6 linked regions of the Homo sapiens genome follow. The protein of the gene in region 4 purifies or fractionates together with the protein of the main gene of each other region. This does not show direct contact. Each region holds a gene or a part of one and is shown on either strand. Other genes may lie near its edges.

The links.
Region 1: the proteins of BRINP2 (region 4) and ACSL1 purify together in Homo sapiens (affinity purification with mass spectrometry; one large-scale study listed by BioGRID and IntAct). This does not show direct contact.
Region 2: the proteins of BRINP2 (region 4) and NPTN purify together in Homo sapiens (affinity purification with mass spectrometry; one large-scale study listed by BioGRID and IntAct). This does not show direct contact.
Region 3: the proteins of BRINP2 (region 4) and NLRX1 purify together in Homo sapiens (affinity purification with mass spectrometry; one large-scale study listed by BioGRID and IntAct). This does not show direct contact.
Region 5: the proteins of BRINP2 (region 4) and ACSL4 purify together in Homo sapiens (affinity purification with mass spectrometry; one large-scale study listed by BioGRID and IntAct). This does not show direct contact.
Region 6: the proteins of BRINP2 (region 4) and SPG7 purify together in Homo sapiens (affinity purification with mass spectrometry; one large-scale study listed by BioGRID and IntAct). This does not show direct contact.

Annotation. Positions count from the first base shown.
Region 1 is NC_000004.12:184,755,095-184,757,531, forward strand, and holds the end of ACSL1 (long-chain-fatty-acid--CoA ligase 1), read right to left. Parts: intron 2,172-2,437; coding exon 2,031-2,171; 3' UTR 501-2,030; downstream 1-500. UniProt on the Homo sapiens protein: Catalyzes the conversion of long-chain fatty acids to their active form acyl-CoAs for both synthesis of cellular lipids, and degradation via beta-oxidation. Preferentially uses palmitoleate, oleate and linoleate.
Region 2 is NC_000015.10:73,570,890-73,574,389, forward strand, and holds part of NPTN (neuroplastin isoform b precursor), read right to left. Parts: intron 2,907-3,500; coding exon 2,773-2,906; intron 1-2,772. UniProt on the Homo sapiens protein: Probable homophilic and heterophilic cell adhesion molecule involved in long term potentiation at hippocampal excitatory synapses through activation of p38MAPK. May also regulate neurite outgrowth by activating the FGFR1 signaling pathway.
Region 3 is NC_000011.10:119,175,225-119,178,724, reverse strand, and holds part of NLRX1 (NLR family member X1 isoform 1 precursor), read right to left. Parts: coding exon 3,451-3,500; intron 1-3,450.
Region 4 is NC_000001.11:177,278,958-177,282,922, reverse strand, and holds the end of BRINP2 (BMP/retinoic acid-inducible neural-specific protein 2 precursor), read right to left. Parts: intron 2,512-3,965; coding exon 1,395-2,511; 3' UTR 501-1,394; downstream 1-500. UniProt on the Homo sapiens protein: Inhibits neuronal cell proliferation by negative regulation of the cell cycle transition.
Region 5 is NC_000023.11:109,723,258-109,726,757, forward strand, and holds part of ACSL4 (long-chain-fatty-acid--CoA ligase 4), read right to left. Parts: intron 1-3,500. UniProt on the Homo sapiens protein: Catalyzes the conversion of long-chain fatty acids to their active form acyl-CoA for both synthesis of cellular lipids, and degradation via beta-oxidation. Preferentially activates arachidonate and eicosapentaenoate as substrates.
Region 6 is NC_000016.10:89,511,403-89,514,902, reverse strand, and holds part of SPG7 (mitochondrial inner membrane m-AAA protease component paraplegin isoform 1 precursor), read right to left. Parts: intron 1,956-3,500; coding exon 1,866-1,955; intron 1-1,865. UniProt on the Homo sapiens protein: Catalytic component of the m-AAA protease, a protease that plays a key role in proteostasis of inner mitochondrial membrane proteins, and which is essential for axonal and neuron development.

The sequences.
Region 1 (2,437 bases), on a different chromosome or scaffold from region 4:
GGGGGTTGATTCATTAATACCTGTGGAAAAGAAAATCTTTAAAATGGTAACAGAAGGAATAGGGTGGAGATAGAAGAAAAGAAACAAGAAAAAGTTGGCTGCTATAAAGAGACATCTGAAATAATTCTACAGTAAGAGAATGACTAAACAGTGCTAAAATACAATAGTGGGATTACATTCACCACGGAATCACCAGTTACAGCCAGCGTCGCCTGAAATACATTTTCCAGCAAGGAAGCTGCATTTTCAGGACCTTCTCTGTTATTCACACCATGACTTTCTTTTCCACAACCAGTTAGGACTTTTGCCACAGACAACCTGGTGGGAGGCTCGGGTCAGTGTCTGTCAGTGCCTGAGGCCAGCTGAGTTAGAGGAGGGTGACTAAGAAGAAAAGAAGACAACTGGGAAGGATTCCAGGCCCAGGGCCATTCTTGCTCTTCGCTTGTGCACATTACAGGCTGTTCCGAATATTAAACATGACATTAAAAAAGATGCCTCACTCACCTGAAATGCAGAAATATTTATTTTGGTTTCCTTCATTGTTTTTGGAAATTTTGTTTTGGTTTATAAAACATAGAAATAGCCAACACTTAAAGCAAACATTCAAAACCCCAAGGTGACAAATTATTGACTTTTTGTGCAATTAAGAATACATATATGAAGTTAGGCTACCAAGTAGTGTTATTACAATGACAATTCTTTAGTGCAAGCCCTGTTGTGCTTGTATATAATACATGTACTCTCACAGACCCCAAAACAGCTGCTTTAAATGTACAAATGACAGCTCAATTCAGTCAAATGTGGCAAAGACTCACAATAAAGTGAACTGCTGTTAATTTCCCAAATTAACTTTAAAAAATCCCTGGAGAAGTGAATCCCAGGAAATGAACTTTCCAGATTTCTACATCCTAGAATTTTGGCTTGTCAAACACATTTCATAGAAATCAGGTAGCATTATAAGAACATTTGCTTATTACTGTCCATTTCAATAAGTACTCAAGTATATACTCCCTTAATAGCTTTAAAGAAATGCTTGCCTGAGAGTTTATTTTTTGGGGAAAAAGGCAAGTTAATCCCAACATGATCTTTTGATATGAAAACCACATTAAAAATCTGTTGGCCTTTACACAGAGTGAGTGGTTCAGTGAAGATAAAGTAGACAGTTATTCAGGCGTCACAGCTGAGCATGGCTGATCCAGGTAACTCTTTCTTGAAATGCTTGTCTTCACTATAGAATCTAAGGCAGATTTTTAAATAACCCCTGAAAAAGGATGGAGTCGGGGAATCAGGCCTGGAGAACCGAGTCCAAGAGCATTCTGCCATGAAAGAGAATCCACGCGTTCTGATGAGCACCCATTTGCCAGAGGCTCCTTATCTGCATGGTTCTGAGTTGGATCTGCCCTCCCGCTTACTGGAAACCTTATGCTCCAACAGAAACCACAGGGGACTGGAGAAGAACATGAGTTTCGTAACCCTTACGAATCAGAAGGGTTCTGTGAATGCCTGTGAGAAGGGACAGTAGCAGGGATTTAAAAAGATCTCTGGTCCGCTTGTGAGATTCTCCAGCCAGGACAGTTGTTCTTATTTTTAAAGGGAACACTTCCCTCTAGTGCACTGTACTCTTTAGAGCAGCAGACAGCTGCAGAATTTGCAGCAAGTAGCAGACATCTCAGAGATAGCAAAGTCCTAACCCCTTGATTAGAGAAACAGGGAGACAGAAGATTTAAAACCCACTTTTTAAACTGAGGAAGTCTCAAATAACTTAGCACATTTATAGTATCCCCTTTACAATTTTTAAGGCTCATTTTGGAAAGTGTGTATTACCATAAACATGGTCTGCAACATGAGGTGACTGTAAGGCAGTGTTCTCTTTCCTCTAGCATTCCTATGAGAAGAACCCCGAATGGACAAGTCAAACACGAACGCTTCCTTCCCTACACTTGCTGTATTCAAAATTAACAACATGAAGGCCATCAGCAGGAGAAGAGATTGTGGAACTGTGCCATTTCCTCTGAGCTTTCTTCTTCACACTAAACCTTGATAGTGGAATAGAGGTCATCTATCTGCGACCTGAAATAGTTCCGCAGCTCTGGCCTTTTCGCCTTCATTGTTGGAGTCAGAAGGCCATTGTCGATAGAAAATAATTCAGGGTGCAATGTGATGCCTTTGACCTGCCAATAAACAAGGCAGTTAAAAGAGGAAAAAGGACACGGGCCACCAGTCTCAAAAGCACGTAAGCCTTGGAGGGGATCAACACTCTCCAGCCATCCAATCCATCCTCTCATTTCAGCCAAGCTGCACCTTCTCAACAAAGGACAGGCATCCTATTCTTAGGATAGGATTCGGGATCATATTCTGATATCCAGGAAAAGAGAATAAATGCTTTTGATTTAAAAACCTTTCCCCTGTCAAACTACTCCATTATTTATTCCTCATG
Region 2 (3,500 bases), on a different chromosome or scaffold from region 4:
AATGCTAAGAACTCACTCCTAGTCAGACTGGGGGAAATTCATAACTTTCCTTTCATTTAAGGACTAGAGGTTAGAGGAAAGGTTATTCAATCAATCAACAAATATTTGTGGCTGGGCACAGAGGCTCATGCCTGTAATCTCAGCACTTTAGGAAGCTAAGGTGGGAGGATCGCTTGAGCCCAGGAGTTCAAGACTGGCCTTGGCAACAAACTGAGACCCCATCTCTACAAAAAATCAAAAATAAAATTAGCTGAGCATAGTGGTGTACACCTGTGGTCCCAGCTACACAGAAGGCTGAGGCAGGAGGATCACATGAGCCCAGGAGGTTGCTGCACTCCAGCCTGGTAGACAGATCAAGACCCTGTCTTAACACAAAACAAAACAAACAAATAAAAGAGAACAAATATTTACTAAAATATGCTGCATGCTTTATATCCTACTAAGGGCAGGTGGGAGTGAGAAGGTGAGATAGGGAGAAGACAGACCTAGAAATGAATAAGGAGCTTGGCCTCAAAAGGGAACCAGACATCCAAAAAGGGATGACTGATTTCAGGAATGTGTTAAGAAGCCCCAACAGAGCGTGTGTATAGAGTGCTGTAGGGCACAGTGAGTGGCCACTGCTGGAAAGAGTCAGGGAAAGCTTCACACATGAGCTAACATTTGCACTAGACTGTGGAGGAGGACAGCTGATCAAACAGGGAGGAGCAGTGCAGGCAGGGATTCGCATGGGTGTGAAGGCAGAGGTGCAAGAGTGCACAGGCAGAGGTCGGGACTCAGCGGGATGGCTCACTGCACTCAGCTCATGAGATCCCGGCAGGGAAAAAACAGACTCATGTGTCTTTACCCTGCAACAACTAAAGCACAATCAGAAATAGGAGAGAAAAAGGGGAATATTATCCTGGAAATGATTCTAGATATGGCATACAATCTTGTCAGCATTTGAGTGCAGGTACATCTGAAATGGGGAACTCGTAAGCTTTTAAAACAGCTAGTCTGTGATGCCTCAAGCTTCATCTTTCAGATTAAAACACATACTGCGTTAATTCCAACCTGCTTTGGCAAAAGCTCAAGGGCACTCCTTCCCAGTGACCAGCAGAGAGAAGTGGACATTTCCTCTCCAGTGCCTTAGAAAGTTCAGTGTCTTGTAAAAAAGACTCAGCATCTTCACCTCGGCAATCCTCATCCTGCTCCTCGTTAACGGGTCTCTGAAATCATCGCTGATGTTGGAGTCATTATCACAACTCAACATTTTATTATCAAGATGTCATGAAGTAGGAAGAATAATGGACTTGAAATTTAAAAAAACTAGATACAACTCTTGGTTTTGCCACTAATTTATCTTGGCTACTATGGAACCCTTCCAAAGAAGATGGATTAATGATCTTTAAGGTCCTTTTGGATTCTGAAGACTGATAATCAAAGAGGATCCATGGGATCAGAGGAACGCTTGACACGCTCTCTGACAGAAAAGGTAATGGGTCAACAATCATAATGAGAGAGAAAGTGAGGTTCTAAAGCTCTGACTCTCCAAACAACATCATGAATCATCCCACTGATCGGAAAAGATGTTCTCTTTGACATTTTCTGGGGCAAATACCGTCAGGTTCCCAATGTCTAAGGCTGCCAAGGCTGCCCTTGGGCCTCCTCAGGTTGCCCCGATTCCTTATCAGTATGTTCTGTGTTGCAGGAATGTACTAGTAATTGCCCTCAGTACCTTGGGCCTCCTCAGGTTGCCCCAATTCCTTATCAGTATGTTCTGTGTTGCAGGAATGTACTAATAATTGCCCTCAGTACCTTGTTTCCTACTAAAAAAACAAGGCAGGTTCTCTAAGACCACTTCAAAAACAGTATTTTCTTCAGGATAAATGGACGAGAATTAGGCTCGGTTCTTTCAGTGTCCTATCCTGAAGGCAAGTGATATGGTTTGGATTTTGTCTTCACCCCAATTTCATGGTGAATTATAATCCCCAGTGTTGGAGGAGGGGCCTTGTGGGAGGTGACAGGATCATGGGGGCGGATATCCCCTTTGCTGTTCTCCTGACAGTGAATTCTCATGAGACCCGGTTGTTTAAAAGTGTGTAGCATCTCCCTCCTTCACTCTCTTCCTCCTCTCCAGCCACCTAGGACCTGCCTGCTTCCCCTTCACCTTCCACCATGATTCTAAGTTTCTCTACTTACAGGGATCACTTAAGAAGAAATAAACAGCAACTGCAGTCTAAAAAATAGGTAAGTTTCAAGGATCAAAGAAGCCTGAGGGGGAGGCTAATTCTTTGGATTTAGCTTTATCTTAACTATATTACCTGTCAATGCCTCACCTTCAGTTACAGTAATCTGAAAGCAATAAAACTCAAAGCAGGCCAGATGTCACTCTGTTGTCTAAGATAGGAAAGATCATCTTTCCTGTGTTTCCTGAGGCCTCCCCGGCAATGCTTCCTGTAAAGCCTGTGGAATCATGAGCCAATTAAACCTTTTTTCTTTATAAATTACCCAGTCTCTGGAAGTTCTTTAGAGCAAAGTGAGAATGGACTAATACAGTGAGCAATCTAATCTCTTACCAGAGGGACAGCTTTAACAAATCACGTACAGGGATTTTTGTGCTGGAAGAGACTGTCAATGACCTCTTGATTCATGCTGTAAACCGTGACTCTAGAAAGGGTGACCCTCGCCATGCACACATCCGAGGATACAGCTACTACAGTAACTGACCCACGTGTCTGGACCTCTGCAGGGAAAACTCCAGCAACCAGAGACCCGGGCCTGCCTCCTACTCACCATGGGCATCCCGTTCTCCTTCTTGCGCCATATCCAGTCTGGGTGGGGGTAGCCAACTGACTTGCAATACATAGTGGCATCCTGCCCTTCATTCTTGTTCTCACTCCGTTTATGGCCAGTGATGTCAGGAGCGGCTGTGAGAAAGCGTTAGACGCAGTTACCACGGAAGTCTACTCCAAACAGGATACAAAGGCCCCACCTTCTGGCTCAGAGCCCTGCTTGTAATGTAGTCAGTCTTTATGCTTACTGTCATACTCAGCTTTGATGAAGAGCATTTCAGGTCAGAATAGGGTAAAGGGACCAAACCCATCCTCTACCCCCCACCCGCTAAAGATGCCCAGGCAGATACCAGGGTTACTAATATATGAGGCTCTACTAATGTAGGTGATTCTCCAACCTACTGGAAAAGGATGCAGGTCCAACTGCCCTCAATTAAGCCTACCTTTAAAGAAAATGCAAACAAACACTATTATCTCTTCTATCGGCCCAAGTTTTTTCTTAAAACACCTGCATGAACAACAGTTATGCATCCTGTCAAATATCACACATTCCCTTAAGGAAATGAGATTCTGAGATAAAACAACTACAATCAAGTCCTATTACAAGGTATGTAAAAACAATGAATGCTTGGAGAAGCTACTCAATAAGTAACAATGACCAAGGCTCTCCCAGGAAAGAGGGAATCCAGAAACTGGTCTTCACAAGGAGGAAGAAAGGAATGAACAGGA
Region 3 (3,500 bases), on a different chromosome or scaffold from region 4:
TCTCAAGAGAAAAAAAAAAAAAAAAAGCCTCCAGGGTGCTGCCCTTTCCTGGGGCATTTCCCCTCCCCCAACTTCTTCCTTTGGCTAATGCTACAAGGGTCAGACGACATGCCCTTCCACAAAGAGGCTCTCCTGACCCCGCAGACCAGTTCCCCCACTATACACTTTCATGGCATCTGGGGCTCCTTCTTCCCAGGCATTTGCTGTAATTTTTCCTTATATGGTTACATTGATATTTTTGTGCTCAAACTGTGCAGGAAGTAGCAGTTTCCTTCTGGGAGAGGAGCTCAGACTAGATCAGAAAGGGCTGAAACCTGTAGTTTTGTTAACTGACATTTCCTCAGATTCTAACACATTGCCTGGCACACAGCAGGCACTCAAATATCTGACAAAGAAATAAATGTTGGGGGTTTGTGATATCTTCCCCCATTCCTGCAATGGTTCTGAAAGGGAAGAAGGGTCATTCCTCTGGCAACAAACCATGACGTTGTTTTGTGGCACGTCCTTTAACATCTGGGTTTTTTTTACTTTTTAATGTTTTAATTTTTATTTGTTTAGAGACAGAGTCTTGCTGTGTCACCTAGGCTGGAGTGCAGTGGTGTGATCATAGCTCACTGTAGCCTTTAACTCTTAGGCTCAAGCGATCCTCCTGCCTTGGCCTCCTGACAGCTGTGACTACAAGTGTGCCCCACTGCACCTGGCTTGTTTTCATGTTTATATGTGAGGTTACTCTCATAGAGGTGATAGTGCCCCTTCTCCAACACCAACCTGTGACAGAATATGTCACCCTGTGAAGCTGAATCCACAGGATGGTGAATAAACAGATGGGCTCAGTGCTCTGCCAGGGCAACCCTCCCTCCAAGAGGGCTTGGGGGTGCAGGGCTGACAATTCTGCTGGGTTTTCAATAACTGGGGGCTTTCTGAATCCCCTCGGGAGACTGCAGCCTCTCGTTGCAACTCAGGTCCGGCAGGCACATCCTCAAGGCGGGGTGGCCTCAGCAGCAGCTGTGACCTCCTGTCGGAGGTGATGTGTGAGAAGGGGTGGGCTGCCCGAGCCTGTTTCTTTGTTTCTTTCTTTTTTCTTTTTTTTTTTTTGTGAGACAGAGTCTCGCTCTGTCACCCAGGCTGGAGTACAGTGGCGCGATCTCAGCTCACTGCAACCTCCACTTCCTGGGCTCAAGAGATTCTCCTGCCTCAGCCTCCCGAGTAGCTGGGATTACAGACACGTGCCACCACACCCGGCTAATTTTTGTATTTTTAGTAGAGATGGGGTTTCACCATGTTGGCCAGGCTGGTCTGGAACTAAGTCTGTTTCTATGTGTGACAAACAATTAAACAGCATAGGCCGGGCGTGGTGGCTCACTCCTGTAATCCCAGCACTGTGGGAGGCTGAGGTGGGTGGATCACCTGAGGTCAGGAGTTCAAGACCAGTCTGGCCAACATGGAGAAACCCTGTCTCTACTAAAAATACAAAAATAAGCCGGGCATGGTGGCAGGTGCCTGTAGTCCCAGCTACTTGGGAGGCTGAGCTGGGAGAATCACTTAAATCCGGGAGGTGGAGGTTGCAGTGAGCAGAGACGGTGCCACTGCACTCCAGCCTGGGCGACAGAGCGAGACTCCATCTCAAAAAAACAAACAAACAAAAAACAATTAAATAGCACTTACCATGTCCTAGACCCTGAGGATGAGTTCATTTCATCTTCATATTAGGCCAGTGATATAAGTTCTAGTATTATCTCCATTTCACAGATAAGGAATCTGAGGCACAGAACTAAGTAACCTGTCCAAAGTCTCACAGCTAATAAGTAGCAGAGCCTGGATTTGAACTCAAATAGCTGAGTTACCAAATCCCTGTTCTTAGCCCTTATGCTTTGGTGCCTATAAAAATAAAAAGTTGGCTGGGCACAGTGGTTCACACCTGTAGCCCAGCACTTTGGGAGGCCAAAGTGAGAGGATCACTAGTGAGACCCCATCTCTACAAAATTAAAAATTTTTTATTTTTTAATTTAATTTAATTTTGTTATTATTATTTTTTTATTTTTGAGAGGGAGTCTCTGTTGCTCAGGCTGGAGTGCAGTGGCGCAATCTTGGCTCACTGCAACCTCTGCCTCCCAGGCTCAAGCAATTCTCCCGTCTCAGCCTCCCAAGTAGCTGGGATTACAGGCACCCGGCACCACACTTGGTTAACCATGTTGGCCAGGTTGGTCTCAAACTCCTGACCTCAGGTGATCTACCTGCCTCGCCTCTCAAAGTGCTGGGATTACAGGCGTGAGCCACTGCACCCGGCTACAAAATTAAAATTTTAAAAATTAGCTGGGGATGGTGGCACATGCCTGAGGTCCCAGCTACTCAGTGAAGTTGAGGTGGGAGGATTGCTTGAGCCCAGAAGGTCGAAGCTGCAGTGAGCTATGATTGCACCACTGCACTCTAGGCCTGGGCAACAGAGTAAGACTCTGTCTCAAAAAATAAAAATAAAAATACATTTAAATTTTTAAAAAGTGTTGAAATTCTGCCAGCACTAACCAGCACTCTGCCTCCTCAAAATGCGTTGCTGAAACATTCCTAGAGAAAACAAAGGTTACCTAGCAAGGTCCCACAGCTCGACAGACATATCCGTAATGCACCAGTATAGTTTGGCAGAAAGAGCACAGGATTCAGAATCACAAAGCCCTGGGCTTTTAAACTTACTATTTGAGTGATCTTGGACAAGTTACTTTACCTCTCTGAGCCTCAGTTTATTCATCTATAAAAGGGATCATAATAGTATTTCCTTTCCAGGAGTAATGTGAAAAACAAAAGGATGAACACTGATAACGCGCCTGGCACACATCACACAGAGTGGCTCCTTCCAGCCCTCAAAGACCTCGCTCAGCTGTGCCACTCACAGCACAGTCCTCAGGTCTGTAATTTGGTTTCTGGAGTGGACCTGCCCTCATGATGACTCCCCTAAGCCAATTACCAATGCCATTTATCTTCCTAGTATAAATGAATAAAATGGCATCTGCTTTATAAACCCGTCTCTGGTGATTTAGTTAGGATGAGTCATCACTCTCAGAGCCTAATCACCTCTGGAGGAGCAGACACAATCGAGTTTCTGGACCTGCAAAGCAGAGGATAGGCCTGCCTCCTAGGAGGAAAGACACAAAAAGGAAACCATTTTTAGGAATCCATGTAGCATTATTATTAAAGTCCCCACGTCCCCAGGTTCCCTTCCCCAGCCACCAAGCCTTCCCCAGCCTTGTGGCTTCTCTCTCTGCAATCCCACTAAAAGCCAAAATGCTCAGAGCTGAAACCAGATCCAGGGAGAAGATTCATACCTTTGCAGGAAGCAGCAGTTTCCTGCTGGGAGAGGAGCAAGGGGTGAACAGGGAACCATGTGGGGGCGTGGGCGGCTTGGGGTGCTGGGGAGGGAAGGAGCAGGTTGGGGGGTTACCTTGATCGGGATGTTACCTTGATCAGGTTGAAGAGCAGAGGCAGAGCCCGCAGAGGCAGCAGCTTGG
Region 4 (3,965 bases):
ATCCCAGATCATAAGATGCAGCATATGGGAAATTCTCCTAATGTCTGCAGCAGTGTCGACAAAGAGGAGCCCCTTTAGCAGGACTTTGCCCAGTGCAAAGACTGCAGTTCCTCTTACGAGCAAGACCTTTTTAACTATTCTCCCCATGTGGGAAATCCTGGTTTTAGGACCCATGTTAGCCCTCACACCCAGGGAGAAAAAAAAGGTGATGGGAGTGTAGTGAGATAACTCTGGGATAGTACTACCTCGCTTCTCATTTAACCTCTCTCTCTCATACACCCCTCACAGCCCAGTCAACACAGGCACTCATTCACTTGTGTAACTTGTGTATCTGTCAATCAACCAGCTTCCCACACAGTACTATCCCCGCTTCATGGACACTCTTGTGTCATGCAAATAGCAATTAAAAAGAAAAATCCAGGTAACCCAGGGGACTATACTCTCTTTTTTTTTTTCTTTTTTCTCTCATTTTTCCCCCTAAAAAAGGCCTTTTCCAAAAATATATTAAACCAGATAAATGTTTACTTAGATGTTCAGGTGGTTGGAGCAGATTAACAAGGAAAACAATCACAAAATAAATAGTTTTGTTTTGTTTTTGTTATTTTTTTTTAAAAAAGAACATTTCCTACACATTGTCTCTCTCTAACTTGACAGAGCTTCTTTCTTCGACAGAGAGATGCTGTTGGAAAGGAGCTCTGAAGGGACCACAATGGGAACTGGGAACAATCCAGGGCCCTGAAACTTGGTGGGGGGAGGAGGCAGCAGAGGGAGGAGTAAGGGAGGGGAGCAAGGAGGCCGCTGCCTGCCCTTGGCGCTGGTTCCTGTTGGTTGTACTTCTTGTGTTTCCCAGTCAGCGTCTGGGAGGGCACAGAGGAGGCAGCATACAAAAGTAAGAACCAATGTCAGGATTCACAAAACAACAACATTTTAAGAAATCTGGTTAAAAAGAATACAAAAGTGACTCCACAGAGGGGAAGGAAGAGCTCCGACCCCTCCCATTGTTGTCCCCTCTTGCTTTCTTGAATGACAAGAATCACTTTTAGGATTTTTGTTTGTTTCATGGTTCAGCTGGTTCTTTTTCTTAATCTCTTCCTTGGCTCCTTTCTTTCAATTGCATTCATTTTAGAAAGCACCAATCAACTTTACAGATCTGAGGCTGCTTAGTTGTAGCCTCCCTGTGCCAGTGTGTGTGTGTGTGTGTGTATGCGTGCGCGCACGCACGCAGTAGCTGTTTCTCTCTCGCCTGCTTCAGCTCGAGCCTCGAGGTCCCATCTACTGGATGCTGAAAGTCTCGTGGGAGCACACCCTGTTGGCACTAAGGTGAGGGCTTAGATTATCTTTGTACCCCAGATTCATGGATCCCCTCCTTGCCCAGTGCTGAAGTGGGCCGCCCATTAGCTACAGAGTTTGCCGGTCTCATATTCCACAGGGTTTGGCAGCTTAGAATTGAAAGCCCTCAGGGAGGACTGGATCCTGCCCACCTCATTGTTGGCCAGCTTAAGCCGATGCCGGAGCAAGCAGGAGAAAAGGTCAAGTCGGACTTTGCCAGGTGGAGAAAGCTGGTTCACCCGGTCCCTGAGCTCAATGAGCTGCAAGAGTGCAGAGTCCTGGGAACCTTGAGTATATGGGTAGTCCAACTGGAGAATTAAGTCCCGGATAGCATCTGGGTCAAAGGGCAGGCTGTAGCCAAAGACCTGCAAGGTGTTAATTTTCATGTAACCCAAATTCTTAGAGGGATCAGTCATCTCCAGGGGCTCATAGTAGATTGTCTCATTGGAGCTGTCATCCAGGGACTTGATTCGGCTCCGTAGGTAAACATGAACTGTCTCAAAGAAAGTCTTCCACCTATTCCCCAAGGTGATAGTCCAGTTTTGGCACTGGGCAGCTGCATCCACGTTAGTCCTTTCCCAGTCAGGAAAGCTGCCCTCATTCACAGGCATGAACCAGCTCTCAGAGTGGCTGCCCCCAAAGGGGTTGACGTAGATGGCCATGACAGGCTCCAGGGTGCTGTTCTTGGTGAGACAGATCTGCAAGGACAAGGCCAACATCACGTGCACCAGCCCAGGCTTGTACTTGTTGCTCTTCAGGGTGAGCAGCATGCGCTTCCTCCAGGAAGGGTCAAACCAGCTGCCCAGCCGCATGTCATTGCTGATGAAGATGGAGTGTACCTCAATGCGGCTATCCTGCTTCTGCAGCAGGTACTTTAGCTCCAGGTCCTGCAAGTCTGTCTCCAGCCCAAGAAAGTTTTCCAGGGACTCGGCCACCTCTGGCCGGCACAGCCCCTGGGCCAGCACATAGCCCGGGTTGCAGCTCCCACAGCGTGTGCTATTGTCTGGAGCACAGTGGGCACACGCGGGCCCTTCGCCCAAGGCACATGGGATGGGGCCCTGGCAGGAAGATTGGTCATAGGGGCAGGTGCAGCTGTGGCTCTGTTCCAGGAAAGTGCCAGGAAAGGTGCTTTCCCCACAGTAGAGGAGGGACTGGATTCGGTTCCACCAGTAGGACAAGGACCTTGGGGAGCAGAGATAAAATGAAGTAAGAGTCAAAAGAAGTCACACACTGACACCCTTCTTAAGGGCAGCAAGACATTGACCACTAGGCGTGGAAGGCAATGAGGAAAATAAAATCCCCAAGATCTCTGAGTGGCAGAAACTCTACTTTGCTACTTTGGACTGATTGAGCAAAGCCTAGAGCTCTGTGTCTGATGGGTCAGCACCAGAAATACTGGACACCAAATTTGTACTGAGAGCAACAAGGCTCATCTCTCCCAAGTCCTACTTCATTCCCTTATTCAAAAACCTACAGAGGATCTCCAGCATCTTTTGTGTCAAATCTGTTTTCAGCCTTCTAAATAAGATGGTTCTTCAAATCTTCTAACTTCTTGCCAACTTCCATTCCCTCTTCAAGGTTTCTGTCCTTTCTATTCTCTCTGCTCCTCTCACTCCTCCACCAAGAACAGAAATTTTATATGGCTGATTCTCTTAAAATTTTGATTTTAGCTCTTATGTTACCTCTTCAAAGAAGTCTTTCCTGATGTCCCTGCCGAAAGAACCACCACACTCATTCTCCATCACGTAACCCTGTTTTATTCAATCCATGAAAATTATCAGTAGCTGAAATTATTTATTTATTGTTTACTTGTTTATAAACGGCTTCCCTGTTAGTAAATACCATGAAAGAAGGAACACTGTCTTGAGACCAACAGCTTCTCAGAAATGAGAATTGTTTCTGTGCATGGTAAGCCTTTAATCATTATTTGTTGAAAGAAGAATAAATGAACTCCTCTCAAAACCACTTCTTCGTATGCTTCTCTTCTTACCTGTGCCTCTGATAGAGCTGTACCACTGGGTTGCTGGCCGTGAAGGCAGCTCCTTTGCCTGGAAGACTGTCCTACCTCACATGTACCAGATCATTTCCCTCTCTTCCCACAAAATGTGGCCAAGATTTTCTTCTCCAAGGAAGCTTTCATTTCTGGTTTTACCTCTAGGAGACTATCCGTTTGATTTATGTTCTACCACCATAAATTTAAGTGGTTGCCACATAGTTATAATTTTCTAGTTTTTATGTTTCTGTTTGTTAAATCTTTCCAATTCATGAATACCCCTGCAGCTTAATAGTAAGGCATGGAATACGGATTCAAAAACTTGTTAAATAAATAAATGAATCAGTGGATGAACAAGTGGATACTTGTAATGATACAGCCCCACTGTATCCCTGAGGGTGCAGGTCTCCACTTTTTTTCCTCCTGTGACCCAGAGCAGAATCATTTGTTTGACACAAGCCAGTGTGTGTGTTTTTCATCAGATGCAATTGCTGGATGAAATTTAACTCCATCCCTTTTTTTCTAAGACTTATTAAAATGGAAATCAGTAAATGAGAATTAGAGTATTACTAGAATAACATTTGAATCAACTATAATTTAGATAATAGTAAAATCAGCCCATCTTTTTTTCTCTCTCTCACTT
Region 5 (3,500 bases), on a different chromosome or scaffold from region 4:
TGCATACCTACTATCAAAATTGTAATTGTAAATTATAATATATAATATAGAATTGTACAGAGAAAAAGTAAAACTATACTGCCCTCCTCTAACACCACTCTCTTTTCCTCTAGGGATAATTACTCTTGATGTGTATCAATCAGATTGTTTTGTATTACCCATACACATGATAAGGGTTTATTTTTAGATAAGTGGAATTATGGTATACAACTGTTCTTTGACTCCCTCCCCCTCTCTTCCCCTGCTTAACAGCATACTTTGGAACTCCTATGTCAGTGTATATATATGTCTAACCAAGAGGCTTTTCTTCTTTTTTTATTTAATAACTCAATGGTATTCCACAGTATAACTTACCATTATTTAAATCATTCCCTACTGATGGATATTTAGGATACTGCCAAATTTTCACAGTTACAAACAGTTTCACTGCAGCGAAACCTTATACATAGTTTTATACACATGTAATATTTCCCTAGAATTGTTTTCTAATAAAACTATTGGGTCAAAATGTATGCACATTTAAAAATGAGATGATTTTGGTATTCTTCAGCAAAGAGTTATACATGTGAACTCTCATTAACAGTGTATGCAAATGCCTATTTGTTAAAAGTGGATATTAAGTTCTTGCCAATCTGTCTGGTGAAAAACGGTTTACATTTCCCTAATAACCAGAGTCAATTTGAACATCTTTTCTTTTTTATTCACCAGTACTTCTTTTCCTGGGAAATGCCCATGTATAATCTTCTGCCACTTTTTGCTTTTTGTAGTGGGTACCTTTCTCTTATTGATCTTTAGGAGCTCTTTATATATTATGGATATTATGCAGTAGAAACCCTTTTATCTAATGTGATTTAGAACAATTGGTTATGTAATTTAAAAGGTTAATTTCAGGTAAACGATCATAAAAATATGTATGGCAAACATTTCACCTTCCTTTCATCAGTGGTATATATATACTCATTCAACAAACTTTGTGTGTGTGTGGTTTTGGTTTATTTATTTTTGGGGGGCTTTTTTGTTTTTTTGTTTGTTTCTGAGACAGGGTTTTGCTCTGATGCCCAGGCTGGAATGCAGTGGAGTGACCTTGGATCGCTGCAACCTCTGCCTCCCGGGCACAAGCTATCCTCCTGCCACAGCCTCCCAAGTATCTGGGACTACAGTTGTGCATCACCATGCCTGGCTAATTTTTGTTTTTGTTTTTTTGAGACAAGGTCTCACTCTGTCACCCAGGGTGGAATGCAATGACGTGAGTGATCATAGTTCACTACAACCTCCACCTACTGGGCTCAAGCAATCCTCCCACCTCAGCTTCCCCAGTAGTTGGAACCATAGGCACATGGCACCATGCCCAACTAAATTTTTGTATTTTTTGGGCTAGGCGTGGTGGCTCACGCCTGTAGTCTCAGCACTTTGGGAAGCTGAGGCAGGCAGATCACTTGAGGTCAGGAGTTTGAGACCAGCCTGGCCAACATGGCGAAACCTCATCTCTACTAAAAATACAAAAATTAGCCGGGTGTGGTGGTGGGCACCTGTAATCCCAGCTACTCGGGTGGCTGAGGCAGAAGAATCGCTTGAATCTGTGAGACGGAGGTTGTAGTGAGCCGAGATCATGCCACTGCACTCCAGCCTGGGCGACAGAGCGAGATTCCGTCTCAATAATAATAATAATAAAAATTTTCTGTAGAGATGGGGTTTCACCATGTTGCCCAGGCTGGTCTCAAACTCCTGGCCTCAAGAGATCTGCCTGCCTTGGCCTTCCAAAGTGCTGGGATTACAGGCATGACGCACTGTACCTGACCTGGGGTTTTTTTTGTTTTTGTTTTGTTTTGTTTTTTTATTTAAAGACAGGATCTCACTCTGTCTCCCAGGTTGGAATGCAGTGGTGTGATCATGACTCACTGCAACCTTGAACTCCTGGCCTCAAGCAATCCTCCTGTCTCAGCCTCCTGAGTGACTGGGGACTACAGGTGTGTGCCACCACACCCAGCTATTTTTTTTTTTTTTTTTTGAGACAGGGTCTTGCTATGTTGCTCAGGCTGGTCTTGAACTGGCTTCAAGCAATCCTCCTGCTTTGGCCCCCTAAAATGTTGGGATTACAAGCATGAGCCACCATGCCAGCCTCAAACTTTCTATATGGGGCCAAGAGGCCAAGACCTTTTTCTCTAACTCCAGGCCCATTGATTTTACATTTGACAAGTAATGTGAGTATAAAACCCTTTTAGATGGCTGGTGCGGTGGCTCACACCTATAACCCCAGCACTCTGGGAGGCCAAGGCGGGCGGATCACGAGGTCAGGAGATCGAGACCATCCTGGCTAACACGGTGAAACCCTGTCTCTACTAAAAATACAAAAAAATTAGCCAGGTGTGGTGGAGGGCGCCTGTAGTCAGGAGAATGGCGTGAACCCGGGAGGTGGAGCTTACAGTGAGCCGAGATCACGCCACTGCACTCCAGCCTGGGCAAAAGAGCGAGACTCCATCTCAAAAAATAAAATAAAATAAAATAAAATAAAACTCTTTTAGATTTTTATATTTTTTCCACGTATCTTGTATAGTCATCTTACCCACATTTAAGCGGACAGTATTTTTTTTTGCAACTTGTTTTCATTAACTCTTCTCAAAACAATTTGTTTCATCATAATGAATCTAATGTAACCATCACCCAGCTTCAACAGTTATTCATATGTGCTGAATTGTGTTTCTTCCATACTACCCACAACCCACCTCCATCCCTCACCCCTTGTATAATGTTAAGCAAATCCCAGACATCATATTATTTCATTTGTAAATTTTCAGTAAAAAGAACTCCAATCTCCCCCACTCATATATTGTCAGGTTACAACATATTAAACAAATTACCTTTTAAAAACAAATACAAGCAGGCTTAGCACGGTGGCTCACGCCTGTAATCCCAGCATTCTGGGAGGCTGAGGCAAGTGGATCACCTGAGGTCAGGAGTTCAAGACCAGCCTGGCCAACATGGCAAAACCCCGTCTCTACTAAAAATACAAAAAAAATTAGCCAGGCATGGTGGTGGGCACCTATAATCCCAGCTACTCGGGAGGCTAAGGCAGGAGAATTGCTTGAACCCAGGAGGCAGAGGTTGCAGTGAGCCGAGATTGCACCATTGCACTCCAGCCTGGGCAACAAGAGCAAAACTCCATCTCAAAAACAAACAAACCAACCAACAAACAAAAAAACAAATACAACCAACATATACAGGTTTAGTAGTAAAAAAATTTACTGTACTGGTAGGTAAACAAGCACGCTGGAGTACTGGAGATCAACCAACTAATACCAAGTATTCAGTGTACACTGTATTTTACAAAGGAAATAAAAATTATTCAATGTGGTGAGTCAATTAAGTGGAGGTCAATTAAAGCTTCTAATGCATATGTAGAAGCTTTTTCATTTTTATTTATTTTATTTATTTATTTTTTGAGACAGGGTCTCGCTCTATCACCCAGGCCAGAGTGCAGTGGTGCAATCATAGCTCTCTGC
Region 6 (3,500 bases), on a different chromosome or scaffold from region 4:
ATCTCAGCACTTTGGGAGGCCAAGGTGGGTGAATCACCTGAGGTCAGGAGTTTGAGACCAGCCTGGCCAACAAGACAAAACCTCATCTCTACTATACAAAAAGAGGGCCTGACGCGGTGGCTCACGCCTGTAATCCTAGAACTTTGGGAGGCCAAGGTGAGCAGATCACAAGGTCAGGAGATCGAGACCATCCTGGCTAACATGGTGAAACCCAGTCTCTAATAAAACAAAAAAATTAGCCGGGTGCGGTGGCGGGTGCCTGTAGTCCCAGCTACTAGGGAGGCTGAGGCAGGAGAATGGCATGAACCCAGGAAGTGGAGCTTGCAGTGAGCCGAGATTGTGCCACTGCACTCCAGCCTGGGCGACAGAGCGAGACTCCGTCTCAAAAACAAACAAACGAACAAAAAACAAAAAATTAGCAGGGTGTGGTGGTGAGCACCTGTAATCCCAGCTACTTCGGAGGCTGAGGCAGGAGAATTGCTTGAACCCGGGAGGGGGAGGTTGCATTGAGCTGAGATCGCACCACTGCACTCCAGCCGGGGCAACAGAGTGAGATTCTGGCAAAAAAAAAAAAAAAAAAAAAAAAAAAAAAAAGTCAAAGGACACACTTTATTGAAATGTTGAAGTATACAGGGAAAGAGCCCTGAAATCAATTCAGAACAATTTTGTATGAAGATTCAGAAGTCTTTTAGAAGATAGTTCTGAGTGGCTGTAAGCATTGACACTTACCGTAAAACCAACAGTAAGCTGAAGATGAGCCTAAAGCCAGAAACGCCTAAACTGAATCCACCTGCGAAACACTGGTGTCCCTTCCCGCAGTTATGACCTCCCCTCGAGAGCTCAGTAGGGAGAGTCAGAGCTCCTCTCTCACAGAGTAAAGCTGTCCCTGGCCTTGGCAAATGCAGCGTCTCACACAAAATCAATCAAGAAGGACGTCACTCCTGAAACAAACTCCTGCTAAACTCGAATTCACAATAATAATCCCCTCATCCAATAGCTGAACCATCATTTCCACATCCTGAAAGCTTTCCTGAAAAGCAACATGGGAAGAAAAAGTCCTTATGACAGTTCCTCACTCGCCTTCCAAGGCCAGGTGCCTTTCTAGAAAGATGAGCTCTGCTGAGCAGGGCGTCCATCTTAACAACGCTGATTTCCAGCGAGAGGCCTCAAGGATCCAAAAGCAAAGCATTCCTGAAGCTGAGTTCAACCCTTCTGCCCCCTGGGGCTGTGAGTCTGAAGCTGAGCCTCCAACTCCTGGGCTCAAGCTCCTCCAACTCCTGAGCTATGACTACAGGTGCACACCACCACGCCTGGCCAATTATTTTCTTCTTTTCTTTCTGTATAGATAGGGTCTTTTTAAATTTAAATTTAAATTTTTTTTTTTTTGAGATGGAGTTTTGCTCTTGTTGCTCAGGCTGGAGTGCAATGGCATGATCTCCACTCACAGCAACCTCCACCTCCCAGGTTCAAGCAATTCTCCTGCCTCAGCCTCCCGAGTAGCTGGGATTACAGGCGTGTGCCATCACGCCCGGCTAATTTTCTATTTTTAGTAAAGACGGGGTTTCACCATGTTGGCCAGGGTGCAGGTGATCCGCCTGCCTCAGCCTCCCAAAGTGCTGGGATTACAGGTGTGAGCCACCACGCCCAGCCTTTTAATTTGCAGTGAGACAGGGTCTCGCTATGTGGTATAGGCCTCAAGTGATCCTTCCACCTGGGCCTCCCAAAGCGTTTCGATTACAAGTGTGAGCCACTGCACCCGGCCCATCTCCCCATTTTCCAGACTGGTTTCACCTTGCTAAAAGGAAAACAGAAATGTAAAGACATCCAGAGGCAGCTACTGACTGAAGAACATCAGATGAATATACCTTCGTCCTCTTCAGGCGCCTTCCCCTTCGACTTATCCTTCTCCTTATTCTTCTGCTTCAACCTTGAGGTGTTAAAATAGAAAGTACCACCTATGAGAAATAGAGAAAGGATTTAACAATTAAGTTTTGCAACCACAGGGGAGGCATACAGGACAACAGTGTACTCCTAAATAACCAAAGCAAAACAAAAACCATCTGAAAAACCTACTTATATCCATAAGATTTATAAATATGAAATAAAGCATATCCTATATCACTTAGTCCAGTATTTCCTAATTACAAAATAATAAACTATTTTAACTTACGTTAAATATCTTTGCTACTTAAATTGCTAATGTGAGGGAATAAAAAATAGTTATGAACACAAATTTGGGAAAATATCACGAATCCCTTTAATATATGAAGTTGCTTTAAAAGAACTTAAACACGCCAGGCGTGGTGGCTCATGCCTGTAATCCCAGCACTTTGGGAGACCGAGGCAGGTGGTTCACGAGGTCAGGAGTTCAAGACCAGACTGGCTGAGATGGTGAAACACTGTCTCCACTAAAAATACAAAAATTAGCCGGACGTGTTGGCAGGCGCTTGTAATCCCAGCTACTTGGGAGGCTGAGGCAGAATTGCTTGAACCCGGGAGGCGGAGGTTGCAGTGAGCTGAGATCACACCACTGCACTCCAGCCTGGTTTACAGAGCAAGACTCCGACTCACAAATGGTTTCCAGACAAGTGGCAACAGCAGCAGCCCAGCCACCACCAAGAGGGGCCGGCACGACACTCCTCACACAGAGCTGTCTCAAAATCTGAACAAATCAGCGTTTACAAATGGGGGAGGCCAGGTGCAGTGGCGCACGCCTGTAATCCCAGCACTTTGGGAGGCCGAGTCGGGTGGATCACGAGGTCAGGAGATCGAGACCATCCTGGCTAACATGGTGAAACCCCGTCTCTACTAAAAATACAAAAAATTAGCCGGGCATAGTGGCGGGCACCTGTAATCCCAGCTACTTGGGAGGCTGAGGCAGGAGAATGGCGGGAATCCTGGAGGCAGAGCTTGCAGTGAGCGGAGATCGCGCCACTGCACTCCAGCCTGGGAGACAGAGCAAGACTCCGTCTCAAAAAAATAATAATAAACAACAACAACAACAACAACACAAAAATGTAGCTGTACGTGGTGACACATGCCTGACTTCCCAGCTACTCAGGACGCTGAGTGGGAGGAGAACCTGGGCCCAGGAGGTTGAAGCTGCAGTGAGTAGAGATTGCACCTGGGCAACAGGGCAAGACCCTATCTCAAATAATAATAAAAAATAATAAAAATAGGGAAAGAGTTTCACAACCATGACCTGAAATGTAACTTTCTTCACAAAGACATGAACGGGTTCACCAGTGAAACGGCCCCGGTTGCCACTTGCATGTCACCTCAGGCTTAAGGAGGCTGAAGCATGTGCTTCCTGTTTCACAGCCACAGGCACCCGTGAGCTGACGTTAAACACTGACAGCAGATGAGCCAGTTGCTGATGCACGGCCAGTGGGCACGGCACTCTCCCTACCCATGTGTTGGCACAAAGCTGTTTAATGTTAGTTAGGAGTAGAAATATTTTACTTTTTCCCTGTTCCAACTCCATAAAGGGGAGCGTGAAA